Homo sapiens: one gene and its partners. The protein of the gene in region 2 interacts with the protein of the main gene of each other region in a pairwise test. Each region holds a gene or a part of one and is shown on either strand. Other genes may lie near its edges.

Region 1 (7,026 bases), about 32 Mb from region 2:
AACCCTCTACAATGCACTGCTAACTACCCAGAGGGCTAGCATACTTCTGATGCTAACTACCCAGTCAGCAAAGACTTCACAGGTTGAAGACACAGCTCTCCATAAGACTCCCTTCACTTCAAACCTCAGACACAAGCTCTGGGGTCCCCAGGCACTTCTGACCAACTGGATACAAACTGGAAGTTCCCACTACCCTTCAGGATTGATAATTCACCATAGCAACTCACATAGAAAGTACTATACTTACAATTAGAGTTTTATCACAAAAAACACAAACCAGGACCAGCCAATAGAGATACGCAGTTGTCTCTTGGTATACATGGGAGATTGGTTCCAGGATCTTCCACAGATACCAAAATGTATGGATGCTCAAGTCCCTAATATAAAATGGCATTGAATTTGCATAAAGCCTTTGCACATCCTCCTATATACTTTAATTTCTCTAGATCACTTATCATGCCTAATTCAATGTAAATGTTATGTAAATAACTATACTGTATAGGGCATAATGACAAGAAAAATGTCTCTATGTGTTCGGTACAGACATGATATTTTTTCCTCTACAAGTTTTGATCCACTGTTGTTTGAATCCATGAATGCAGACCCCCAGATACAAACAACCACCTGTATGGAGCTAGATCTGGGAGGGTTCCAAACATAAAGCTTCTGTGCTAGGAAGCTTCATCACCCTCCAAATACATCAGTGTGTATCACCACAATGTGTATCACCTACCAGAATGCTTAACTGAGCTTCAGTGTTCAGAGTTTTTATCCTGTTTTATCAAAACAACCTGTTTTACCAAAACAAACATTTAACTCTGTGAGATGAATCCACACATCACAAAGCATTTTCACAAATAGCTTGTTTCCAGTTTTTATCGCGGAATATTCGGTTTTTCAGTGTAGGTTTCGATGGACTGGGAAATGTACCTTCATGGATTCTACAATTGGGGTGTCATTATATAGGTATGATTTATGAAATAGGACCACACAGTGGAACTTAATCTCCAGGTCCCTATCCTTCCCAGGAGGTCCTATGACTCAAAGCCCAAATCCTTTAATCACATGGTTAGTCCTTCTGGAGTGGCCAGCCCCCAGACCAAGTCATCTTATTAGCATAAACTAAGCTATTATCCCAGGGGCCCACCAAAAATAACAAAGATGCTCTTATCACTCAGAAAATTCCAAGGATTTAGAGGCTGTCTCCTAGGAAACAAAGACTAGTCAAATTATTTATCATTCAACACTATAAGAGAATTTTATCTTAAAAGAAACCCAATATATACAGCAAACCCAAGTGGAAGTGCTCTGATTGAGGAGTCCCAGAGCCTGCTCCCTAGGTACTCAACCCCTCTAAAGCCCAAGAATATTGAGTGAGTCATTCTGAACAATATCACTTACTTCATCTTAGAAAAGGAAAGCATGTTATTACTTTGGTCTGGTAGTGCATTTTAATAATTAATTCATCATTCTCACTGACTGGTAGCCAAGCAGGTTGTTTTTTTTTTAAGTGCATTTTTTAAAAGAACACACTTAAATTCTAAAACCTGCCACCTTATTCAAAAACATAATAGCTAAGCATATTAAAACTTATTAAAAAGTTAACAGTTTATCTGATCAAATATAAATTGCCTACTATCATAGTTGAGTGCTATCTTACAGTTCTTGATTAATGATACATCCAGGAACATATGATACAGTTATCAGCAGATATTATGTTGAAAACTCATGAACTACTTTATTACTTTCCTACACATAAATAGAATCAGCATCTGATTCATATTTGTATGGATGGATCAGAAACACAACCCACTTCAGAAATCTAAAATTGTTCACATCATTTATTGAGGCTGTCTCAAAATCATCAAAATCAGTGGCACAATTCTTCTCAGTTATAAAAGAACAAGTATTTTTTTTTTAATCAGAAGGATATAAACTACCTACAACATGGTTCTGTGAATAGCAAATGAAGTCAAAACTATTTATTTTCTAAGACAAAAACAGGGTTTGTGGGAAAAGGAAAAGTGACAAAAATAACAGACTTGCTTCTAAAGAATTCAAAGCTTCATAATGATCTCATTTTATCCTGAGAATATCCTTACACTAATACTCAAAAAGAGGAGATTGAGAAATCTGCCCAGCAGTACCCAGAAAAAACATACACAGAGCCTCATTTGAATTTCAATAGTCTTTTCAAAAGATTAGAGAACTTTTTCTGATAAGCAGCAACTTTTGATTTTTCTCAAAATTTATCACTGTCAAAGATCTGGGGAGGTAAGAAATGCTGACAGGAGGACTTCGCATCACATTTAGGTGGTGAGGAAAGGACTGTCATTCAGTCAGCCCGAAGATGTAACAGTTCATTAAAAATGGCCAATGGAAAAGTAAGTCTGAAAGAAATTATCCTCTTTGCAAATCAATTCTTCAAAAATCTTTCATCTAATATCCCTGATCCTCCTGGAAACTGTATCTGCAAAGAAATGTAATCTGAAGCTCTGCTAACCAGAAAAAGAAGTAGGTATCAAAAGAACAGCATGGAAGCATTTCAGAGAGGAACATAAAACAGAAATGATAACCTAAAGGCATTAGAAAAAACAGCTTAGAGGAGAGGTAAAATAGGGACAGAAGAATCAAAGAATACAAGTTCTTAATCCAGTGGATATCAGATGGTTAACATACTTGTATTCTGAATTTTCACATTTCTCTCCTATGTTTTAACAGTAACTGATTGCACACCTTAGAATCCAATAGTCCCCACATCTATTTCTAACTTGATTATAAAAGGAGCTAAAACGTATCCATTGGTTACTACATGCCAGGTGCTATGCTAAGTGCTTTACATGCATCATCTCCTCAAAACAAACCTACTGAGGATTAATGAACAAATAGGTATGTCAAGCCAGAGGATCCACACCTGAAGAGCACAGTGGCATAAAACCAATAAGGAGTGAAATACACCTGCAAGAAAAAAGTGGAAGGTGAGGCTCAAGAGTCACAAAGAAGCCAAATATAAGAGGCCTTACATGCCCTGCTGAAAAGTTCAAAGTACTGTGAAAGCGGTAGATTCTTCAGAACTTTTTTTTTTTTTTTTTTTTTTTTTTTGAGACGGACTCTCGCTCTGTCACCAAGGCTGGAATGCAGTGGTGTGATCTTGGCTCACCGCAAGCTCCGCCTCCCAGGTTCACGCTATTCTCCTGCCTCAGCCTCCTGAGTAGCTGGGACTACAGGCGCCCGCCACTACGCCCGGCTAATTTTTTGTATTTTTAGTAGAGATGGGGTTTCACCATGTTAGCCAGGATGGTCTCGATCTGCTGACCTCATAATCCGCCCACCTCGGCCTCCCAAAGTGCTGGGATTATAGGCGTGAGCCACCGCGCCCAGCCCTCTCTAGAAATATTTTAAACGGAGGGGCCACGCGTACATTCACATTTTAAAAATATCACCATCAGCCATCTGGAAAATAACTAGGGAAAAACTGGAAGCAGGGAAGAACAGCTGGAAGCTACTGTACTAATCTGAGAGAGTGGTGATCTAAACCTGGAATCCTTGAGGGCATATTCGGTACCAGGGTATCTGGCACAGGGTAGACAGGATACATTTGTTGTTTAGAATGTAGAAAATTACAACTACAGAAGTCAAGAATTACTCCCAAGTTCACGACTTGTATGACTAAGTAAACTTAGGTACCAACTATCAAAACAGACAAAAAGCATAATTGAGAAGAAAAATTTCAAATGGTTTTGAACATGCTGAACTTGAGATATTTGAAGCCTATTCAACTCTGGTAAAGAGTCAGAATGTCATGTGTTTTCACAAGTAATCCTCATAGCATCCGCATGATGTATAATGGATATTGCTATCCCTATTTACCAAAGTAGAAAGTGAATTCAAAGGGGTCCTATACCTATCCAACTATACATTGTGTCCATTTACTAAGAGTAAATGCTGCAGGTGCAATTTAAGCCCAAAGCCCAAGGTCTTTCTATCATATCACACTTCAGGAGAATGTGACATTAACATTTAAGATTCATCTAGCTTATGATTTATGAGGCTGACTGGACTAAGCAAAGCAGACTAAAAAAATGTCCAAGTATGTAGGATGTGGACTGGCCCAAAGCAGTCTGACTGGGAACACAAATATTCTATTATAGAAACAAAGACATATGATGATTTAGCAGAGGCAGGGAAATGATTCAAAGATGCCTCTTGGGTTTCAAGTCAAGATAACTACAACACTAAAATATTACCAAATTGGCTGGGCCCGGGTGCCTCACATCGGTAATCCCAGCACTTTGGGAGGCTGAGGCAGGCAGATCACTTGAGGCTAGGAGTTCAAGACCAGCCTGGCCAATATGGCAAAACCCCATCTATATTAATGTAAAAAAAGATTTAAAAACAAACAAAAATGTTACCAAATAATGAATGAAGAGCCAGACTTAGAAAGATAACTTCAGTTTTCTGACAGATGAATTTGTTTTGGAGGGAAAAAAGAACAGCAAATAGAAATACAAGACTAATGTTCTAGAAAAACACCAATAATTCATTATTTGATAAATAATTCTTGAGTGCTTTCTATGTACCAGACACTATCCCTAAAGTATTAGGGGAAAAAAAATGAAAAGTTCTCATCTTAATGGAGTTTATATTCCACACAAAAGATAATCAATCAATTAATGTCAGGTCACTAAGTACTATAAAGAAAAAGAAATGGAACAAAGAAACAGAGTGAGAGGGTAAAGATGCATTTTTTTTAATTCTTTTTTTTTTTTTTTTAAAGACAGGGTCTCACTCTCTTGCCCAGGCAAGAGTGCAGTCATAGCTCACTGCAGCCTTGACCTCCCAGGCTCAACCAATCCTCTGGATTCAGCATCCCGAGTAAATGGGACTACAGGCATACCACCATGCCAGCTAACTTTTTTATTGTTTGTAGAGACAGGGTCTCATTATGTTGCCCAGACTGGTCTCCAATTCCTGGCCTCAAGGAATCCTCCTGCCTCAGCCTCCCAAAGTGTAGGGGTTACTGGCGTGAGCCACTGCATTCAGCCCAAGAAGGATATTTTTTACAGAAGATTATTAGGTAAAGCGTCTCAGAAAATGACGTTTGAACAGAGTCCTGAATGGGTGTGATGAATATCCAGACCTTCAAATACCTGGGTGAGGAGTATCCCAGGCAAAGAGTACCATATAGCTACAGAGGCAGGAATGAGCTTGGAGCGTTCAGATTTAAGAAGCCTGGAATTCAAGAGAGTGAGTCTGGAGATCATAATCATATCAGACACACAGGAAGAAGCCATATTGTGAGCCACAATAAAAAAACTTGCATTTCCCTTTAAGTAGGATAGGAAGCTACCAGAGAACTCTGAGCAGGTAACTGACATTATCTAACATTTTTAAAAGATCACTGACCTTTGTAAATGAGAACTGATTGTAGAGGCAAGAGTGGTAACAAAGAAACCTACCAGAAGGCTCTTGCCACTGACTATAAGAGATAACAATGACTGAAGTAAGGTAAGAATGGTGAGACAGAAAAAGGTGATGATGTGTCCGGAGTTTGTTCCCTCTGGTGGGTTTGTGGTCTCGCTGACGTCAAGAATGAAGCCACGGACCTTTGTGGTGAGTGTTACAGCTCTTAAAGGTAGCACGGACCCAAAGAGTGAGCAGCACCAAGATTTATTGTGCAGAGTGAAAGAACAAAGCTTCCACAGCATGGAAGGGGACCCGAGCCGGTTGCTGCTGCTGGCTAGGGTGCCCAGCTTTTATTCTCTTATTTGTCCCCGCCCATGTCCTGCTGATTGGTTCATTTTACAGAGTGCTAATTGGTCCATTTTACAAACCTCTAGCTAGCTACAGAGCACTGATTGGTGCATTTTACAAACCTCCAGCTAGCTACAGAGCACTGATTGGTGCGTTTTTACAGAGCACTGATCGGTGCATTTTACAATCCCCTTGTAAGACCGAAAAGTTCTCCAAGTCCCCACTTGACCCAGGAAGTCCAGCTAGTTTCACCTGTCAATGAAATTCTGGATATATTTTTAAAGTACAGCCAAAATATCTTGCTGATAGGATGAATGTGAAGTGTGAAGAAATAAGAAGAATCAGTGATACTCCTAGACATTGGAGCTCAGTGACAGGAAACAGTAATCATGTTGTCGTCTACTGAGAAGGGCAAGGATGAAGGAATGAGCAGGTTTGGGCAAAGAACTAAGAATTGAGTTTTTGAATGTTTGTTTTTAGACTCTAAGCAGAATCCAAATGGAGATGCTCAGTAAGGAGATGGATATCTAGGTCGAGAGCTCAGGCAAGAGGCTGAGAGTAAGAACATAAATCCAGGAGTCACCAGAATACGCTAGGTATTTAAAGCTAAGAAATTAGATGAGGTTCTTTTTAAAATCTTACTTAATAAAAAGTACAGAAATTTTTCTAAGTGCTTTACAAATATTAACTCAACCCTCTTAACAACTCTCTGAGGTAAGAACTATTATTACTCTTATATTCCATATTAAAGATAAGGAAACTGAGACACAGATTATCTAAGCAACTAGGCCAAAAATCACACTACCGGTAAGCAGCAAACCTGGGACTGAATCCAAGCAGTGTGGCCCCAGTCTGAATTCTTAACACTAAGCTAAATTGCTTCCTAATACTCTAAGGGAAAAAAAAAAGTGGAAGGAGAGAAGAGGCTCCGGAACTGAGCCGCAGGGCACTCAACTTTTAGAAGTTGCAAAAAGGGGAAGCAAAAAAATTTAAAAGGAGCTAAGTAGAAAATGAGAAAAAGTTTGGTGTCCTGAAATCCCATGAATAAAATACTGTATATCAAAGAGGAATGCTTAAGAGATCAAAAAAGAAATGGACTAGAAAGTGACCATTGGATTTGGCAAGGTGGAAGTCACTAGAGACTTTGAAATACAAACTTGATGAAATAAGTTATCTTTACGTTTCTTCTAAATTCAGCTCTTGAATTATAATGTCCAAAATGAGATTCATTTATTCCATAAATGTTTACTGAAAGTTCTTCAGCATGCCAAA
Region 2 (7,026 bases):
TCTGAAATTAATGTCAGGGTGGTTTTCTTAAAAATCTCTGTCTTAAAACAAAACAGATAATGGAAAAACCCAAAGTAACCATCTCTCTTCACCTACTGGAGCATGTAGGAGGGGAGGAGAGGGGAAAAGATGCAGAAAAAATGCAAATGGCAGGACCCCGGGAAGGGGCCAGGTCCTCTGCAAACCCACCGGCACCAGGCACCATCTGCTTGGGGCTGTGCAGTTTACTCATCTTGGACTGGCCCTGATGCCGCCTGCTAAGCAGAGAGTGGCAGCAACTCCAGGGCAGTCACAGATAAATTTTTTTTTCCTTTCAGAATAGCTGGACACAATTTTCTGAGCTCAACAGAAGGCTGCCCCTGGGCACGAAAGCAGAAATGTGTTTGTGGGCCCAAGTCACTATATTTTAAATGGACTTGGGCTCTGTGGTGTGTGTGGGAGGAGTGGGTGCTTGTAGGACTGTACGGCTCAGTGGAGACACTGGGAATGCCACGATAAGAATGCTCTGAATCTCAAAACACAGCCTCCTCTCCCCCAAAAAAGAAAAGAGGTAATGACCTGGAGTTAGCCTCTTCCTTCCTAACTCATTAGGTACGTTGCATGTAATAGAGTGACTCATCCTTTCCTTGGGCAGAAGCATCACCTGGACATACTAGGTCCTGCTAGGGAAGGAGACATGAACACTAAGCTTCCAAGGACCACAGAAGGAGTCCTTAGTGTGGTTCCCCAGTGCATCCAGGCTGCCTCTGAGCCAGGCAGGTCCCATTTCCCAGTGTGCAGGCCCAAAGCCACCTTGAAAATGATGATTCCCATGCATGAAGAGGGGACCCTTTCCTCCTAACACTCCGGCTCTGTGTGATGTCTCTGTATGGTCTGTGAGTTGGACCCTGAGGACAGGGAGCTGTGGAAAGCTGGGGTAAGGGACGGGAGTGGGGATCTGCAGGGTCTGGCTGTTCTAGAGGCTGGGTTTGGGAGGTGAAACCTAGTGGCAGGAGTCAAGGTTGGTGTCCCTGGCTGGGCCTCGTGGCTTTTTCCTTTGTTGCCAATGGCTTGCTCTCAGTAGGCGGCAGCAGACTGCAGAGGTCTCTCATGTCAATGAGGCTTTCTTCCACAGCTTTTGCAAACTTGCTAGAAGAAGTCTCTTTGCAGCTGTGAAAGCTAGAGATGCAGAAAAGGATGGTCTCTGGCTGGGGGTTGTAGCAGGCACCATACCCATTTGGGACCACAGGACCATAGCAGCAGAACATCTCCGTGGTTGTGGGCACCTGGAGGAGAGGACAGGTCAGGAGCTGCTTGTTCTGGAATGCAGCCCGCCAGCCTCGACTGGGCTTGGCTTCTCTGTTTTCCACCTGGGGGTTTGACTGAATTAACCAAATCAAGTGATTGCTTTAGCATGGATGGACACAGCCAGAGTCATAAAAACAGACCCATCTAACTGCATGATATCAGAGGATGAGGGGCCCCAAGCCCACTCCCTGGTGTGCAATCTGCTCTACTTGTGGAGTTGGAAGCTCCCGGAGTGACCTGGTGCTAGGTCTTGGGCTGAGTCTCCACTTCACCTGGGGGCCATTTGAGGCACGGAGGCAATCAGGTAATTTACTAAATGGTCCCCTGGTGGCACCCCATAGTTAGATGCTTTCCGGAGGGAGGAATTTATGAACTGGAGGAAATCTGGCCCATCCTCTGTGTCGATTTCCCCCAGATCCTTAATTACTGTCAGTATTGCCTGGCTTCTCTGATTTCTCCCTGCAGCCTGGCCATGCACAATTACCCAGAGTTGGGTGTTTCAAAGATTGCCATCAGTTTTACTTATGCACCTAGTATGTTTTGAATCAGAGTGCTGAGATTTTGTAATCCAGATCACAAACCAAGAAAGTATGTTTCTGAAAGCATTCAAGCCATAAATGCTGCTTTCCAGTTGGAAAACAACAAAACTCCCACACCCCAGATTAATTTTATTAGCTGGTCCTTGGGAAAAAAAATAGAAAGGATTCTTGGGCAGGTGCAGGGCCTGGTTTGTTTTAAACCTACAGGTTTCTGGTGCTGTGTGCTGAGGCCTTTGGAAGTGACACTGGCTGTTTTAATGGGGCAGAACAAACCATTAGTCTTGCTAATAGAGTCACCACATTGTCAGATAAATTTGCCGTGCAATAGCCGAAGGCCATAAAGCCATTCCAAAGCACTTTTTGCCCATGGATGATTTCCTGAGAAATTTATGGTGCTGTGTTCTGTCCTCGTTTATTCACGTCTGCATGCTCACTGCCATAATGACAACATCCCATTACTGAGTGGGCTTCTGTCCTCAAACACAGCTTATCAACTCCAGTACTGCCCATCCAGCCTTTCGCAGATGAGGTGGCATTTTAGTAAATTGATGGCTGTGGGGCATTTCCCCTCCTAAACCACGACCTCTCTCTAATGGATTGCATTCTGTCTTTGTGGCAGTGGCTCTCATACAGGACACGCTGAGGCACTGGTTAGATGTTGGGCTGGCCACGAATGTTCTGCTGTTGGTTGCGTGGCCCTTTATAATAATATCTGTGACCTATTTAGAGGGCCCTGTCCATGCCAGGCCCTGGGCTGGGCTTTCTCCCTACATAATTGTATCTGGCCAAGCCAAGACTTCACTGCAGACCTGCTGGGCATCAGAGCCCGTGGAAACCGCGGCAATAGATTGAAAGGTAGTAAGGTGTAATGGTTAGGGCACCAGAATGGGTATGTTCCTGTACTGTCTCCACCTCGGCTAAGTAGGGTCTGCTGATTACTCCCATTTAGGAGATGGGAAACCTTCTTCTTCCTTTTTTCTTTTTTTGAGACAGGGTCTCACTCTGTCACCTGGGCTGGAATGCAGTGGTGCAATCAGGGCTCACTGCAATCTCCACCTCCCCAGCTCAAGCAATCCTCTTATTTCAGCCTCTTTAGTAGCTGGGACTTCAGGCACGCACCACCATGCCCAGCTAATTTTTAAAAATAGGGAGATGAGGTCTCCCCATGTTGCCCAGGCTGGTCTCAAACTCCTGGGCTGGAGCAATCCTCCTGCCTCAGCCTCCCAAGGTGTTGGGATTATAGTTGTAAGCCACCAAGCCTGGTCAGTAAACCATCTTCTAATGAACATTCAGATCATTTTGCTGAAGATCACATAGTTCAGAAAAAGCAGAGGCAGGATTTGCCTGATTCCAGCTAGTGGGCTTGTTGTCACTGCTCTTTAGAAAGCTTACTGACTACACTACTCTTGGGCGATAGCTGCACGGGGCCGTACCTGGCTAGTGGAGAGGACAAACCGGTTGCTCATCAGGTAGGTTTCATCCATGAACATCTCGGGCAGCTCCTTGCACATGGCCCGGGCCAGCTCCCGCAGTGCCAGCAGGTGGTTGTCAATGGCCATCCCTGTTATGGCCTGTGTAGTTGGGGACAAAGAACAGGAGATGAGAAGTGGGCCTCCTGCACCTCCTTGTTCCCTGCTCTGTAGTCTACAGGACTGCTGGTGACTCCAGCAGCCACGGCTCATGCTTACCCAGTGCCTGCTGCCAACAATGTGTATGAGTGGCTGCTCAGGACTGACCGCTCTACCATGCGGCCTCTGCTCCCGGGCCCTTGCGCATTTCCACATGCACTGAATGAGTCCAGAGCAGGTTGGGTTCTAGCTTGAGACATCTGAGCTAAAGGTTAGTGAGTCTGAGCATCCCCTACACAACTATATCCGCCTGGTTCTCTAAGTGGAAAGAATGGGGCTGGCCTGGTCTTCTCAACTACCAACTGCTTGGGCAGGGAGAGAGTTTGGGAAGAAGGCTGTGTGCAGAGCTTGGAGACTACCGGATCCTGTGCAAGCATTGTGAAGGGCGTCCCAGGCTGTCCTGAACAGACTCCCACCACAACCAGCGCTGTCTCCTCCAGTAGGAGCCCAGGGAACAAGAGATAGAGGATAGAGGGTGTGAGATCTGTTACTGAATCTTGGCTGCTATTTCATGGCTCAGGATCAATTCATTTAAACTGGATCCATAATCTAAGAAATCGTTTTGAGACAGGAACTAGACCCCTTAGCAGGCTCAACTGACATTTTCAAGGGGAAAGAGCCTGTTGAATAATAAAAGTTCTTTTTCTTTTTATCACAAGATATTTAAACTTTTATCAAAGGATAGAAATATAGAGAAAGCTCCAGGATGTCAATGTAGGAGGGGTTCACGGAGGGTGAGGTGTCTGGAAGTGGGGCCGGGTACTCATTCTACAGCTCCCCCACTTGAGGCTGGGTATGTAGTATGCACACTGGTTTTTTGGACTGCATGTTTATTTGGAGCAATTCTAGGGGCTGATGGAGACTCAGGGGGCCACCCTGACCCATAGTAATCACTTTTGGGTCAACATCAGGGTAACTGTGAGTAACTCTTGGGGTTTCACAGTTCTGTAGGATGGCCAGTTAGCTGTCAAAGCCCTGCACAGGAGGAAACTTCCCATTCACAATGAACTTGGTATAGGTTTACAAGGCACGTTTAGGGATTTGACAGCTGTTCTCTTTCAGTTGCGAATGAATGCATAAAGATGACTCAGGCTCTGGTCTCTCTGAACGCACCTAATTAGAGGCTGAAAAGACAAACATTACACAACCACAGCTCACTTTAGACGTGCCCTACCTGTTAGGACCGAAGGAAAGAACGGTGAGCCCATCTATGAAGGAGACTACTCTTTTAATTTCTCTGGTTTCCTCTATTTAATTCCTGATTTGTGTTGGTCCATAGAAGCAGCTTCCCTGTGAACAGTCAACTCACCCCTCTTTTCACCACCTTGGAATAACTGTAGCAAGAGAGACTGAGTTCACAGGTTGTTTGGCTCAGAGCCATGAGTAATAACGAGTAAAATGACTTATAATTCAGTCTTTCATTCATTCATTTAGGGAATCTTAATTGAGTGCCTACTATATGCCTGGTGCCGCGGGTCCTGTAGCCACAACAGAGAACAAGACAGTTGTAGACTCAGTCCTTGTGGAGCTTATGGTGTAGTGGGGGACAGATTTCATCAACCATGCAAAAAAACATGATCATAAACTCAAGTGTGAGGAAGGGAAAACATAGAAGTGGGAGAGTAAGTGATGGGGGCTCTGGACCACCTTGCCATTGGAACTTTATTTCTCCACGACCACTGGCAAATATGCTTACCAGTTATTAGGTTTCCTTGCTTCTTTCCCCCTTTCCTTACCCTCCATGTCCAACCACACACCAGATTCACATCCTAAGCATCTTTGTATCTCTCCTTTCCCCAAACCCATCTCTTTGATTTGGTTGTTCTCATCAACTTAAAATTATTAACACAACCCTATGGCAATGCTTTGGAGGGTGTTTTCCTAGACATTTTAATAAATTTAAAGTTGTTATTGTCATATATTTATATCGTTTAGAAATCCAAATAAACCAAAAGCCTAGGTCATTTTGCCAGCACGGATTCCTACCCCACAAAGGTAATTCCTTACAGTCTTTTAGCTATTTCTTTTGGGTATATACTTTCTTTCCTCCAAACATATGCTTAGGTTACCACTACTGAATTTCTCAGTTTTACCTATAATCTTCTTGTTATAGACAGTGAAATTTCAGCTCTTTTTTTTTTTTTCTGAGATGGAGTCTCACTCTGTCGTCTAGGCTGGAGTGCAGTGGCGCGATCTCAGCTCACTGCAACCTCTGCCTCCTGGGTTCATGCCATTCTCCTGCCTCAGCTTTCTGAGTAGCTGGGACTACGGGCACCCCGCCACCACACCTGGCTAATTGTTTTGTATTTTTAATAGAGATGGGGTTTCACCGTGTCAGCCAGGATGGTCTCGATCTCCTGACCTTGTGATCCACCTGCCTCAGCCTCCCAAAGTGCTGGGATTACAGGCGTGAGCCACTGCACCCGGCCAATTTCAGCTCTTTTATGACCCTGCTCCCCCAGCACACTTCTACTCTCCCATCTTCCCAATAAGATTATGTTTTAACTCTTTGTAGTTTGATCAAGATACAGCATAATCATGTATACAGAACGATATACATAAGTATAATTAAGCAAGTATTCACAGCTGGGTCATGTAGTGTACTATGATTAGATTTCCTTTCTTATTGAATTTTTTGTTTTCCCTAGAATTGACAATGTATAAATTACTTTTTTACTTCCTTAGCTTTCCATGTATCTATTTTATTTATTTATTTATTTACTTTTGAGATGGAGTTTTGCTCTTTCACCCAGGCTGGAGTGAAGTGGCGTGATCTCGGCTGACTGCAACTTCCACCCCCTGGGTTCATGTGATTCTCCTGCCTCAGCCTCCTTAGTAGCTGGGATTACAGGTATGTGCCACCACACCTGGCTATTTTTTGTATTTTTAGTAGAGATGGGGTTTTGCCATGTTGGCCAGGCTGGTCTTGAATTCCTGACCTCAGGTGATCCACCCACCTCGGCCTCCCAAGGTGCTAGGATTACAGGCATGAGCCACTGTGCCAGGCCCCATGTATCTGTTTCTAACTGATTCCTAAACATGCAGCAAGAATTTCATTTGTCCTCTCACTTCTTGCTTCTTTATGGACTGATTGCTCTCTAGGTGTACTCAACAACTGTTGATTTGTGATCTCCTTTTACTGTCATCCTGCGGGCACCCCTCTATCTTTTTCTTGTGTTAAATCTTCTGTTTTTTTTCAGCCTATGATTTCCTCTTTTATGTTTTATTTTCTCACTTTAGAAGTCTACATTCTCCAGTAGCTTTATGAGAAATGGTGCTTAATAAGTAAAATGTTTGAGACTTTCTCTGTCTAAAAATATCTTTGATGCATCTTCAAACTTGATGACAGTTTAGCTGGGTATGAAATGTGTGTTGAAGGTCACTTTCTCTCAGAATTTGAAGACACTACTCTTTTTATCTTCCACCTTCCAATGATGCTGTTCAGAAATTAATTACATCTTTTTTATGGATCTTTGTATTTGATTTTTTTATCCTCTGATAGATTTTAGAATCTTCTCTTCATGTTTAGTGTTGTGAAATTTCCTTTGCTATGAGTATTTTCCATCTATTAA
Region 3 (7,026 bases), on a different chromosome or scaffold from region 2:
GGGCTTGTGTGAGCCCTTAAGAATTCGAAGAATGTCCCATTTCCCTTGTGGGGGTGGGAGGGGTTGGTAGGGGGAAGAGGAACAGTAGAAATTAATAGAAGAGAAGGGGCAGCTGAAGGAGGGGCCAGGACAGAGCTGCAACCCTTCCTTTACCCAGATAACCTGCCCAGTGCCCTCCTTCTTCCAGAAGGGACAACTTCATGTTGCTTCTTGGGCTTGAGATTTTTATCAGGAATCTGTTTTCCCAGCACCTGGTGCAGGTTAGTATGTATTATAGCAGCAGGCAGGCAATAAATGTCTGCTGAATGAGCGAGCCCCTAAAAAGATGAAAGAGTGGTCTTAGCCAGGGAACGGGAGGGGGTAAGGAAGCAAGGAAGGTTTGGGGTAAGGTTAGGGGTAAGGCTGGAGGTTTAAGCCCCCTTTTTAGACAAGTCCCAAATTTTTTTTTCCCTGGGTGAACTTCAGCTGCAAAGAGCCTCCTGACTGAGAATTAAGAGAAAAAAAAAAAAAACTGGACTCAAGTCAGATCCTAAATTCATGTGAACACTGAAATTACCATTACTTGAGTTGGTTGAAGTTAAAAAAAAAAAAGTTAAAATTAAAAAAAAAATCGAATTAAGGCTGGGCGAGGTGGCTTATACCTGTAATCCCAGCACTTTGGGAGGCTGAGGCGGTGCATCACTTGAGGTCAGGAGTTCGAGACCAGCCTGGCCAACACGGTGAAACCCCGGTCTCTACTAAAAAATACAAAAATTAGCTGGGCATGGTAGCATGCATCTGTAATCCCAGCTACTCAGGAGGCTTAGGTACAAGAATCGCTTGAATCCAAGAGGCGGAGGTTGCAGTGAGCCAAGATCGCGCCACTGCACTCCAACCTGGGTGATGAGTCCTCTGACTCAAAAAAAAAAAAAAAAGCAAATTAAAAGAAAAAGAAATTATCATTACATCATTACTTATAAGTGACTTGACCTTCCAAAGCCTCCACCTCGCAGGTGGAGGCGGCTGTGAGGCCCCAACACTGAGTTTGTACTTGCTACTCACAAGGTCAATTGGAAGATGGAAAATTGCTGTACTTTCTGGGATTGCATGGGATGGGATGGGATGGGATGGGAGGGGAGGTATTCCTCCAGGCTCTGGGATGGGGGACCCCACCTCTATACTCCCTCCCTACCGTCAGCTGCTGCAGGTCCCAGTGCAGAAGGAACAGAGCTGCACTATACTCAAGATGACTATACTCAAAAGAAACAGTCTCCACAGCCTCCCTCACCAGGCAGGGAAGAGATCTATCTGGCCCAGGCAACACCCTTTATGCACCCCTGCCCATTCTCAAAAAATGAACACCAAAAGGGCTGGCATGAGGCTTCCAGAGAGTTTTCTTGAAGGAACCACTGGAGGAAGGAGCCCCCAAAGCCTAGAAGTACCCAGGTGAGAGAAGGAAACTGTCGATTTTGAGGAGAGAAATAAGGGAAGGTAAACAGAACAAAGTCCTCAACCCCAAATACAACAGACACGTCACTCATTCTTGAAAGACCACGAGGAAAGCCCCCTCTTTTGTAGCAGGGGACAGTGGAAAGAAACGTGCTCGCCTTACTGCCCGAAATTGGGTTAGAGCCTGTCTTGCCCTAGCCATCCCACCTTGAGAGTCTCTTCCCTTCCCTAAGCCCCAGTTTCCTCATCTGTACTTTAAATGCACTTTAAATGGGGGATAAAAGCACTTTAAATGGGGATAAAAAGTGCTTGCTTCATTCAGCTGTTGTGAGGACAAACTGTGATGTTCAAGTAGGGGATGGAAGTGTTCGCCAATGTCACCTTGCGGTTATTGGAAGGAAAGGAAGAACTCACTCGGGGAGGGAGCCAAGGTGCCCACCCAGCCCCCTGCCCAGAACAGGACTCACGCGTTGCAGTAGGGCTTCTTCTCGTAGCCCTTGTAGTTCTTCATGTTCAGTGTCATCTTGCAGGTCTCGCAATGGAAGCATGCTTTATGCCAGAACTGGGGATGGAGACAGGAGGACATACATCAGATACCAGGACTTCTGAAAAAGGGGCTCAGGCCCTAGGAAGGGGCACTCAGGAGCTGCTGGGACTGTCCTAGGCCCATGGCTGTGGGGAGAACATGGAATCATCCCAGGTGAGCTGGGGGCATTTCAGGTCACAGGCTTTGGCACTCCCCTCCCCTCTCTCCTTCCTCATCCTCCACCAATGGGCCATTTGAACCCAGGAGGAAGAGACAGGCAGGCATGAAGGACAGGGGGGAAGAGCCCAGTTATAGCAGTGGCAGCAGCCCCCAAGTCAGCTCCACCCTCCCCAGGGAACCCCTCCTGCCCAGAGCTGGCGAGGCCTCATTGCTTATGCAAAGCTGCGCTGGGTTGCTAGGGAGCAGCCGCTGAACATGAAGGAGCAGCTCCTCTGGTGGCACCAAGGCCTCAGAAGAGGAAGGCCCAGCCCCCACACACCCAGGCCCAGAACCCAGGTGCTCCTAGCTCCTGTACCAGGGCCCAGCACACCCACCAGCCCCACATGAGCCCCAGGTGGTGCTACAGCTCCGATACCTCCCACTTCCTGTGGGATGCCTGGCCAGAGGAGTGGGCTGGGTGTCCCAGGCTCTGTCAACACAACACATCCTTTCTACCCTTCCCTCATCCTCTCCCACCCCAGGAGGAGGGCAGGAGAGCACCCGGCAGCGGGTCTCCCACTGAGGCACTGAAGGGCTCTACTTCAAAGCCTTGAAGGTGGACACCCCTATAGTGGACATCAAAGCTCTACCCCACTAACTGTATGGCCTTGGGCGGGGCCCTGCACCTCAGAGGAGCCCACTTCCTGGTGTGTACAATGGATGTAATAACACCTGGCCCTCCTGGGATTGTCCAGGACTGAGGAGAAATCACCTTCAAAGCCCTCAGCACAGCACTTGGCACCTCTGAGCACTCAGATGTCAGGTGCTGGGCACAGCAGGTGTGAACCTTAGCCGAGGGGGTCAGGGCTCACACTGGAGATTGTGTGTGTTGGGGTGCAGAGGGGCTTCACTGTGCCAACCACAGCTCCAATCCATTCATGCGTGTGAGAATGTGGGACACGGCCGGGCACGGTGGCTCACGCCTGTAATCCCGCACTTTGGGAGGCCGAGGCGGGCGGATCATGAGGTCAAGAGATCGAGACCATCCTGGCTAACATGGTGAAACCCCATCTCTACTAAAAAGACAAAAAAATTAGCCAGGCGTGGTGGCGGGTGCCTGTAGTCCCAGCTACTTGGGAGGCTGAGGCAGGAGAATGGCGTGAACCCAGGCCACTGCACTCCAGTCTGGGTGACAGAGCAAGACTCCGTCTCAAAAAAAAAAAAGAGAATGTGGGACACAGGGCCCATCCAGGGTGGCCGACGGAGGGAAGAGAGTGATGACAGAAAGAGAACAGATCTAGCCGGGAGCGGTGGCTCACGCCTATAATCCGAGCACTTCGGGAGGCTGTGGCAGGCGGATTACTGGAGGTTGGGAGTTCAAGACCAGCCTGGCCAACATGGTGAAACCCCGTATCTACTAAAAATACAAAAAAATTAGCCGGGTGCAGTGACGGCGTGCCTGTAATCCCAGCTACTCGGGAGGCTGAGGCAGGAGAATCGCTTGAACCCAGGAGGCAGAGATTGCGGTGAGCTGAGATCATGCCACTGCACTCCAGCCTGGGGTATAGAGCGAGACTTAATCTCAAAAATAAATAAATAAATAAATAAATAAATAAATAGGCCGGGTATGGTGGCGCATGCCTGTAATTCCAGCTACTTGGGAGGCTGAGGCAAAAGAATCACTTAAACCCAGGAGGTGGAGGTTGCAGTGAGCCAAGATTGTGCCACTGCACTCCAGCCTGGGTGACAGAGCAAGACTCTGTCTCAAAAAAAAAAAAAAAAAAAAGAGAAACGATCTAACAGGCTCCACGTGGCAGCCTGGAGGGGTCTTTGTGGAACCCCTGAGAAGTATTGATGCTTAGGCAAACCCATGACAACAGGATCTAAATTCACCCCCAGAAGCCCAGGATGATGTGCTGGATCACCACCAAACAGGGGTCCACTGCCAGGACCCCAGAATAATCCAGGCCACCTGAGTGACCTGGCTGGCCTGTCCCTGCCCCATTTCCCAGTAGTCAAGGGAGACATTCCCCATTCCAAAAGAAGGAGGCCAGGAGGCAGGCCCAGGGGGACTTTTGAAGGAGCCCAGCCACAGAGCTGGTTCTTGGCCATTTGTCAAGGAATTCCCCCAAGGCGATGCTTTTCAAAATGTTGTCTCCAAACCCCCGGAGGGAGAGGTGCTTCTGAGACACTGGGAGGAGGGGATAGCAGAAAGAAGGCTGAGAATCTGGGATTCAACCTCCCTACCATGGCCCACTTCAACCAGAGACCCCCAGGGTAATTTCAGGGGGAAATCACCTTCTAATAGGGTACTGGTTCCCTATCAAGAAGACCCAAAGGAAAAACCTAATGGTGGAATATTAAACAGAATGCTAGGAGAACCACTCTTGGGGAGGACGGCCAGCCGGAAGTCTGGAAGCAAAGAAGTGGCGGGTCTAAGCTTGGCCCCCTCCCCAACCTGGGCCTATCCCAGTGACCCAGGGCCCCCAAACTCCTATGAGGCAACTTAAAGACTCCTTCTGGTGCATAACCCAATAGACAGAACCCACCGGGACACTAAGACAGACTGGTCCCTGCCCCCACAGGCCCCTGAAGTGGTGCATACCCCAACACACAGAACCCACCAGGGACACTAAGACAGGCTGGTCCCTGCCCCCACAGGCCCCTGAAGTGACAGCCCCACTCCCTCCCCGAGTAACTGGGAGGCATTGGCAGGGTGCCCCAGCCTGGTCACCACCCAGTCTGCTGGCCTCTGCCTACTTAGCTGCACAGGCCCCTGCCTAGGCCCCTGCCTGGGCCCCTGCCTCCCCCTACCCCCACAGGGGCCTGCCAGGAAAAACATTCTCCAGAATCCAGACCATGACCCACTTTCTCACACACACACACACACACACACACACACACACGAAGGGCTACACACTGTCCTAGGACCACGGACCTCCAAGGCTGCCTCCTGATTGACGTTGGGGAGACAAAGGGAGAGAGACCCCTACTCCAGATGGCCAGGCCTGCACCCGGAGCCAAGCCCCTTGGAGAAGGAGGGTGGGGTGTACTGAGCAGGCAGGGGGCACAGGGCCAACACTGGACCCAGTGGTTCCAAAGACCCCTCCAGGCTGCCACGCGGAGGAAGCAGAGCCCCTCTTCTAGGGGATGGCACCTATTTCTATCAGTAGCTCCTTCCCACCTCCCTCACAGGCCCCACACTCTCATCCAGACACCCAAGGGTGGGGCAGAGGAGGGTGGTCGCCTGTCCCCCTGCAGGGGGCTCTGAGCAGAAACATGGAAACCAGTTACTATGAAGCACAAGTGTCAAGTGGAGCTGCAGCCACTGTCTCCCAGAGTGCTGGAAGGTCAGGAGAGGAGGCCGTTCCACCCCTAATGCTTGGCACCTCCAGCAGCTTCAGGCGACTCCCCTACCCTCTCTGGAGGAAGGCCCCAAGGTTCAAGAAAACCCACCAGCTCCTTCCACTGTGTCCTTTTTGGGGTAGGAAAATTGTGGGGAGGGGAGGCAGAAAATGGCCAGTCCCTCCACAACCGCTGTGAGCCAAGCCTGGACCCTAAGATGAAAGAACTCCTGCCTTGTCTCAATGGGGTCTGGGGAAGGACACTGTCAGGGAAATATGTCCAGAGGACCCCACAGTGACCCCGTCTGCCTCTGCCCTGCCCCATGGGCTCTGTCCCAGAGCAAGAGCCCCCCTCTTTTAAAGGCCCCAGGCAAGATGATTTCAGCGAAGCATTCCTGGGCCTCAGGACTCAAGGAAACTGCACCTCGAGGCATGCACCTCTGCCCCTTCCTGCTGCCTGCAAAGTCCATGGCTTCCCTGTTCACAGAAACCAGACAGACCCTACCTCTGCTGCCTGTTAGAGGCCTCTCAGCCTGGATCCGAGGCTCCAAGGCAGGGTCATCTTGATCTTCCCTTGCCTACCTGCAACCCACTCTAAAGAAAGGTAAACAGGCTGGTAGGGGCAGAAGCCTGCAAGGATACCCCTCACTTGGGACAGCCTGTCCCTCTGTGGCTCTGGGTTGGGGGGGATGTGGCAAGCTTCGTGTCACTGTGCCTGCAGCCTGGCACCTTGGCCTCTGAACCCAGGCTACCTGGGGTGGCCATGACTCAGGGATGGATTATGAGACCATCTCTTCCCTTCCTGTTGCCCAGGGTTACAGTTTCTCCCTCCTGCAGAGGCAATGCCAGCCCCACCCTGGCCGGGGCACCAGCCTAGCTTGGTTGGCCACCTGACCCGCTGGCTTAAAGGCATAGATCTTTGCTGCACCTCCACAAATTCCGAGGAGGACAGGATTATTCCCAGTGGCCCCACGCCCCCATACAAGACCCCAGGCCCAGAGCATTCCTCCAGATAGGGTCAGGAAGGGATGGGACCTACTTTTGGCACAAATGAGATGTAAATAAAATATAAATATGTATAAATAAAAGTACTTTCTGCAAACACACTGGCAGAAGAGCTGAGCAGAAAGAACTGTGGATGTGAATTTCAGCTCTAAGAGAGGGAGATGAGCCACATGGGCTACCTGAGCCTCCATTTATGGAGTGCATCGTTTACAAGAGCGAATACACCTACTTTGTGAGGCTGCTGTGAAGACTGAGCCCAGCATATCGTGATAACTAGTAGCTATTATGAAGGGATGGTCACAAGATGATGGTGGGGTACTCTAAGCTTCAGCTAGCAAAACGGGGCACCACAGCTGTGAGGACTTCAACCCCCTCGAGTGGGGAGGGAGCGCTGAGACAAGCAGAGGCAGAGAGCCCACCCTAACAGGGGATTCCAGGGGAACTGGCAGCAGACCAATCCTCTACCTCCACCTGTTTTCAGAAACCTGGGGAAGCAAGCCAGGAAAGAGGGACGTGGCGAGGTTCTTGACAACACAGCTCCCTAGATACAAAGCAGGTGCACAA
Region 4 (7,243 bases), on a different chromosome or scaffold from region 2:
AGCTGTATTAAAACTACTTCAACTGAAACTTCATCTTCCAAGTTACTGTAAAAATTTAGAAAGCTGTGAAAGAGAACATTATATAATCTTACTGTGGGTTTTAAAAACTCAATGTAATAATGAAAAAAATTAAGAATATCAAAGCGTGCCTTTATAGGGGCACATTAAATGTTTATGACATTTCTTGAATTACATGGTACTAAACTCCTGATTTGTTAGCACTGTTGTCATTGAGTATGGTACATGGAAACCATGGTTGCCAGGTCAATGGTTGCCAGGTCAATGGAGGTTTTCTGTTTGTTTTTAAGCAGCAATTCATTTTAGTGACAGACTGCACTACAGCCACTACACTTCTCGTTCTTGGAAAACGAGAAGAGTTAATCAAAAGTGTGTGGACATGGAAGTCTAAAATTATTTCGAAATAAGTGTACAGATGGATCAGTTCAATTCCATTTTAAGTTGTTTTTATTAAAGAATGAGAGCACATTTTATTGCTAGAAGTTAAATATATAATGGATAAAAGTTTTAATATTAAGTTTAAATTCTGAATGACTTAAAAATTGAACTATTTAAAAAAACTGTAACTAATACTTTTAAAAAATACTGCTTTGAACACAAAGGTGTATATGCTGTTTGAATTCAGGATAAAGATATCTACATATTCTTGTCCAAATTAAGTACACCATTCCTTACACAAGGTCCTTCATAATCTGTTATTTTAAATCTGTTACCAATTTGAACATAGAGATCACATTTTCTTGCCTCATCAATCATCGGGTAGTAAAATGAGAAATAACATTCGGCATTAATATGCAAATCTGGACAATTTTTACAGCAATTACTTGATTTGTAGTCACAAACTCTACTTAAACTGACATGTCTTCCTTCTCCTAACAATAAAATAACACCATTAAACCTGAGACTTAATTTCAGTCCATAAACTGGGTTTGTTCTCGTTATTAATAATTCTTGTTTCATAATATATCCAGTAATGCATATATTTTAAGTGTTGATATGTATTATATTTGGCAATAATATTCAAGTACATTACTCCAACCTCTTAAGTGAAAATCAGCAATCAAAGCAGTGCCTTAAGCAGAAAGCATTAATATTTAGTGATTGCAGGCAGCACTGTCATCTTTATGTCTATAAAGATGCAAACAAATTTTATTAACAATGCAAACAAATGCAGACAGATGCAAACAAAGTTTAAAGTAGAATGTTTTAAACGTGTGCCCTGAAAACAAGTCTATTATTAGACCCCCATAAGGAGATTCAATTCTGAAAAGATCCAAATGGAAGTCTGTCAAACTGTATATACATCGTGGTGATTCTTGAAACGAAAATATCTTCCCATTATTTAAATAAGCAAAATTCTACAGACCCTTGAACATGTCCTTTATATGTTATTCTCCTTATACACGCAACATATCCTGCTTCCTGGTTATAACGCCATTCTCAAACACAAAATCAGGCCAATTTTTAAGAGAAGCCAAGACTTAAAAAGCTCGGCGGCGATGGCTCACGCCTGTAATCCCAGCACTTGGGGAGGCCGAAGCGGGTGGATCATGAGGTCCAGAGATCGAGACCATCCTGGCCAACATGGTGAAACCCTGTCTCTACTAATACAAAAATCAGCTGTGCGTGGTGGCGCGCGCCTGTAGTCCCAGCTACTCCCGAGAGTTTGAGGCAGGAGAATCGCTTGAACCCGGTAGGCGGAAGTTGCAGTCAGCCGAGATCCTGCCACTGCTCTCCCGCCTGGGAGACAGAGCGAGACTCCGTCTCAAAACAAAACAAAAAACAAAACAAAAAAACTCCTTATGATATTTCCTCTTTGATATTTGCCTATATTAGGATTACCACATAACATAAAGGTTACGGGGAATTTATCAAGAATGTAAAGACAGTTAAAGCTTAAAGAACTTAAATATTACCTAAGCTAAATTTACATAGGAGAAAACTGGTGCCCAAATAAATCAAGCAGCTTCGCAATATCTCAGAATATCAACGCCAGGATTAAATGCCGCTGGTTCTGTGGTTTTTCCAGCAGCTCCAAAGAAACATTTTTAAATTAGGGGTTTAAAAACTACCAGATGTTAGGAAACAAAGGCGGTGCCACGACGTGTGCTGCCGTCCGTGTGTCGGGGGAGAGGCGAGCTATCTTCCCTGTGCACCCGCGGCCTCCCACTGCCCACAGCCCAGCACACACGAGGTACTCGGGGAAGAAACAGGGAGACAAAGGCAAAGTAAAGTTCGAGGCTCAGTCCCGGCTAGAACTCCACGCAAACGACTAGGAGCCCGCTAAAGCTCACCCAGCCTGAATTCAATTCTGAAACCAGACTGCTGAATCTCACCCAGCCGTCGGGACGCCCCAGACGGCGTCCAAAGCCTCCAGGGGACGCGCGGACCCTACAACGGCCAGGCAGCGGCCCGGGCCTGCAGCGGTCGTTGGTCGTCGGCGTAAGCGTGTCAGGAAAATAACACGAAATGCAGCACAGGTGGGAAGCGGCCGGAAGGCAGCGGGGGAGAGCGGAAATAAGGCGGAGAGCGCAGGGCGCCGCGGGGCGGAAGAGGCCGCCAGACGCCCCAAAGAGACTGGCCGCTGGGCCCTCACCATGCAGCGCCTGGGTGACGGCGAGGGCGCCTTCTGGCCGGATGCTGCCGGGGCAGGAAGCAGCGTCTCGGACACTTGCCCTCCCACTGCTCGACGGGGCTGGGGAAGGACGAGGGTGAACCCCGCAGCCACCGCCGCCAGCCCCCACTGTGTATTCGGCGTGAGAGTGAGCCGGGCACTATCCAGCCGTTAGCAGTGGTCTGGTAGTGACCCCGTTTCCCCTTTCCCCTCCTCACCCCTTCGGGTCTTCAAATGTTGGTCCTAAATCCCGGGGCCCAACGACCAAAAACCGCCGCCACCGTTTAGGGGACCAGTCGGTCAGAGCGAGGGGGGGTCGTCGCAGGGGGAGGGTAGCCCACCGGGACCGCTCGCGCTGGTCCTCGTGTCTCCACTCGTTTCCCAGCGCGCAGCGCGCGCGGTGGCCTAAGCAGCCCCACGAGGAGTGGTGCCTCATCCAATCAGGGATTAGCTTCGGGGCGGGGCGAGGAGGAGAGAGTGGGGCTAAAGTTTAAATGAGGCTCTTGGGCTAGTCAAAGTGCTTGGAGTGACAGGCATTTCGAGCAATTGGGGTGAAGAGAGCGATTTTTAGGGTGTGGGTGGGCACGGAATAATAAATGAAGGTCCTAGGTGCATTGTTTAGGTGTTTGAAGACGAGGGCTGCAGTGTGAAATTCCGCACTTAAGGGAAAACATAGATGCATCGTAATGGTTCTTTTTCTTGTTTGATGTAGTTTTCTTGTAAACTGCTAGTTTGGCGCAAAACAACCACATATATCCGGTGGACCTTTGAAATTAAGGGCTAGGGGGAGGTGGGTTATAAAGCTAAAAGATGGATTTGCAAATAGGACTAGAAGTATAAAGTATAAGTGGTTTAAATGACAATGACTAAGAAAATGGGTTAGATGAGGAGAACTAGCGATAGGCTTGACGCTACCACTAATCAGCTTGCAGGGACATTTGGCAGAGGCGAACTGCCGAACTGGGTTCTATGCTCTTGTAAAACCAACTTTCACAGATAGGGTTGTTTGGCATTCGGTATGCATAACTTCAGTTTTGCTTCCTTTGAAGACAGCTCGAAATTAAATGCAGACAAGGAAAGAAAAAACCACCTTTAGGAACCAACTATTTATGTATAGATAATATTAGATTCATGGAATATTAGACAATAAAGAACCTAGCTCATGTTGATTCTCTAATTAACAAGGAACTTCATGCCCAGAATATTCACCGAGTAACACAGATCTCCTTATTCCCAACCTCAAGGTGATTTCTTCCACATTAACTCCTAATGTATTTTCTCCATATATTCAAGGAACTAATGAATGTCTACCAATTTAAATTTTGTTAAAGTATATTTTTAATTTTTAAATATACTACAACAGTGAGGAATTAGCAGGGACTTTGGAGCCAGACAGACCCTGTTTAAAGTGGGGATTGTGAGAATAAAATAATATATGATATTACCAAATATTGAGCCAGATGCCAGAAACAATCCTAAGGACTTTTCATATTTTCATTTAATTCTCACAGTAACTTTGGTAAAGTTACTAGCCCTACTTTGCAGACGGGGAAACAGATGCAGAAACCTTAAGTAGTTTGGGCAAAGTCATATAGCAAGTAAGTGGCTCCAGTTTGAAACCTACAGACATAATTGCTATACTATACTGTCTCAAAATACGTCCAGAAACAAGTAGAAAACTTGGCATAGTACTTGATGCACACTGGAAGCTCAACAAATATTTTTTGTAAGCCGTCTGCCCTTTAGTCAATGAATACAAGTGTCATTTTATATAAGATGTATGCATTCAAAATAAAGCAACTAGAAAACCTAGACTGATAGATCTAGTTGGCTTTGTTTGACATGTCACCAATTCTGTACCTCGGGAACTGTGATTGTTATATTGATTACTATTTTTTGCTGCTCTTTTATTTCTCCAGAAAAAGATTCTCCTCATTCTTCATTTTCATGTCGGTACCTTCTCAATTCCTAGTAATTAATTCTAAATACATGTGTTTAAGGTTAAATTATCTGAAATGAGGTTAGGCATATTAGTGGCAATTTAAAACAAGTAATTTCTAGGAATGGCTGTAAGATCCTTAAGGAGTCACTAGGTGGAGATGTTGTGAGGTACAAAGATTGTTCTTGGAAATAGCCTGGAAGGTTGTTGAACATTGCTGGTTTTCTTGTTTCCCTTTTTGTCTTTTTTCTCCCCAAGTATAAAGAAAACCAAATAGACAAGGGCTTCTCAATAGGCATTACAGTCAGACCATAGAACCTTGCCATAGATGAGACAGTGTTGTTTAAAGACCCTTCCCATACTTAACATTGTATGTCATTTTGGTTAGATTTTGTCTAAGTTTTTATTATCCTAAAGTTTATTAATAGGTATACTTTTCAAATGCTATAAAAACTATTGTCTGCATGTACAATTAAAGAAATGACCTTTAACTTTATTTCTCAAGGCTCCCAGAGAAAGAGATCCAAAACACTTTTATCAGCTAGAATTCTTCAGTAACAGATTCCAAATTGGATTTGTTTTAAGATTATTTGAGCTTATGGGAAAAGGTGACCCAAATGAGTAAGAAGGAAGATGATAAGCAATGTAAAGGTGTTTGTGACTAAAAAGAAGTGTCGAAAGATACTTGGCATACAAGGGAGAAAATAGAAGGGGATCTCTGCAAACACCAGAAAGAGAAATAATAGTGACTGTGTGACATGGGAAGTAAAAGTTATCAATAAAAAATTGGAAGGAGCCGGGTGTGGTGGCACACACCTGTAGTCCTAACTACTTTGAGTTAGGCTGAGACAAGAGGATCACTTAAGCCCAGGAGTTTGAGGCTGCAGTGAGCTATGACCGTGCCACAGCACTCCAGCCTGGATGACAGAGCGAAACCCTGTCTCAAAAAAAAAAAAAAAAAAAAGGAAGAGATGCAAAATTCAAGTGGTTAAAAATAGTCTGAATACATGTATTTTCCCCATATAAAATGCAAGCTTTTATATCACTTAGAAGTTAAGATGCAAGCTTTTATATCACTTAGAAGTTATTTTCATATACATTCTGCAAAATACACCCCCTGACAAAGGAAAGAGAAGCAATGGGAAATCTTTAAAATGTTTAACATCCAACTTAGTCCTCTGTTCCATATAAATGAGCCTGTGCAGTGATCTGGTTTATTTTCCATGTGTTGGAGCTTCTTCAGCTTCCTTTATCACTGTGGCAGTGATATGACACAGATCCACCAAAAACATGGCAGCTACTTGCATGTTTATAGAATTAATGATCTACAGCACATCGCTCAGGAACAAGGAACTCTTTAATGTGGTGAATCTTCAATTGAAATGTCATCTCAAACCTGTTTTGGAAGTGTGGATTTGGGGTTTTGTTTTATTTTATGTGTGTAGTAAGTATGTTTATTCTAATTCACTGACCCTTACTTTCTTATCCTGGTTTAATGCATTCTGCCTGACAGATGAATTTGAACTTTTCATTATACTGGAAGGTGAGCATCAGCACCAAGATGACTATATGTGGCGGGAGAGGCGCATTAACATTGCTTTTTTCCAGTTATGGTGATGAGCCATATTTACATCCTGTCAGTGTACCCCCTATGATTAACAACCTCACTTCCCAAGGCAGCAAATCAGAACCTGAGATCTTCTTCACATGTAGCTAATGGCCTATATATGGACCAAACCCATGACCAAGGCCTCAGTTGACATAGGGGCAAACTAAAGGAAGTACTCATAAAGCTAACCCTTTTCAGATTGGTATAAGTTGTTAGTTAACATCAGGATCCACTTATCTAATTATTAAAAATAAATACATAAATAAACCACAATAATAGAAATAGGTGATGCGAAAGGAAATACACATTTTTCTCTGAGAGATCTAGGATTAACTCACAACATAAGAAACTAATATATGTAATAAAAAATAAGTTTCTGATAATGAAGACTGATTAACTTTGGTTGAGAGAGAATGTGATTAAATCTTTCCTGTCTTATCTCACTGGATAAGTTTGGTAGTGTGCTTCCCTGGGTAACAAGTTACAATGAAAACTAGAGCTGTAAGACACCTTAGCAACCATTTGGCTGGGAAAGCTGAAATTAACTTGCCCCAAGTCAAAGAGCCAGTCAGCAGCAATACTGGATCTCCAACTCCTCTCTTCTAACTTTCATTCTGATACTCTGGTTCTCCCAGAAACTTTTAAATTGCATTTTAAGTTTTTTTAAGCCATCATAAATATATTCCATGAAGAAAATTATTTTGGTTGAGGACAACAGGGCCAGCATTGGTTCAGGCACTTCAGTACACCTGGCCATGAAGGATGTGTGAGGCAAAGCACTTTCTTAGGCATGACATTTCTCTCTTAGCACTCCATGGATGGCATCTTCCCTGGATGATTCCAGCTGGGACAGTCCAACTCTGTCATTTGTCACTGCAGAGGAAGCAGAGAGAGACTCCCGTTTGGTGCCCAAGAGGGCACTTTGCTTGCATTTCTCAAATGCAGGAAATAAGGAGAGTCCATGGAACTCGAAGGGGAAAGAGGAATGCCATTATGACCCATAATGCAGTCTGGGTTCTAAACTAAGCATCAGATCTTTCTAATGAGTCACTGTATCTCTCTT

Evidence for each region.
Region 1: the proteins of CHAT (region 2) and STAM interact in binary tests that used the Homo sapiens proteins (3 or more experiments, as listed by UniProt).
Region 3: the proteins of CHAT (region 2) and LASP1 interact in binary tests that used the Homo sapiens proteins (3 or more experiments, as listed by UniProt).
Region 4: the proteins of CHAT (region 2) and RBM46 interact in binary tests that used the Homo sapiens proteins (3 or more experiments, as listed by UniProt).

The regions. Positions count from the first base shown.
Region 1 is NC_000010.11:17,647,141-17,654,166, reverse strand, and holds part of STAM (signal transducing adapter molecule 1), read right to left. Parts: intron 1-7,026. UniProt on the Homo sapiens protein: Involved in intracellular signal transduction mediated by cytokines and growth factors. Upon IL-2 and GM-CSL stimulation, it plays a role in signaling leading to DNA synthesis and MYC induction. May also play a role in T-cell development.
Region 2 is NC_000010.11:49,659,016-49,666,041, reverse strand, and holds part of CHAT (choline O-acetyltransferase), read right to left. Parts: intron 3,398-7,026; coding exon 3,260-3,397; intron 1,266-3,259; coding exon 996-1,265; 3' UTR 1-995. UniProt on the Homo sapiens protein: Catalyzes the reversible synthesis of acetylcholine (ACh) from acetyl CoA and choline at cholinergic synapses.
Region 3 is NC_000017.11:38,873,050-38,880,075, reverse strand, and holds part of LASP1 (LIM and SH3 domain protein 1), read right to left. Parts: intron 6,197-7,026; exon of another isoform or gene 5,963-6,196; intron 1,991-5,962; coding exon 1,896-1,990; intron 1-1,895. UniProt on the Homo sapiens protein: Plays an important role in the regulation of dynamic actin-based, cytoskeletal activities.
Region 4 is NC_000004.12:154,777,044-154,784,286, reverse strand, and holds the start of RBM46 (probable RNA-binding protein 46), read right to left. Parts: upstream 3,016-7,243; 5' UTR 2,851-3,015; intron 2,783-2,850; exon of another isoform or gene 2,615-2,782; intron 2,499-2,614; exon of another isoform or gene 2,355-2,498; intron 2,332-2,354; exon of another isoform or gene 2,313-2,331; intron 1-2,312. UniProt on the Homo sapiens protein: Essential for male and female fertility, playing a crucial role in regulating germ cell development by ensuring the proper progression of meiosis prophase I.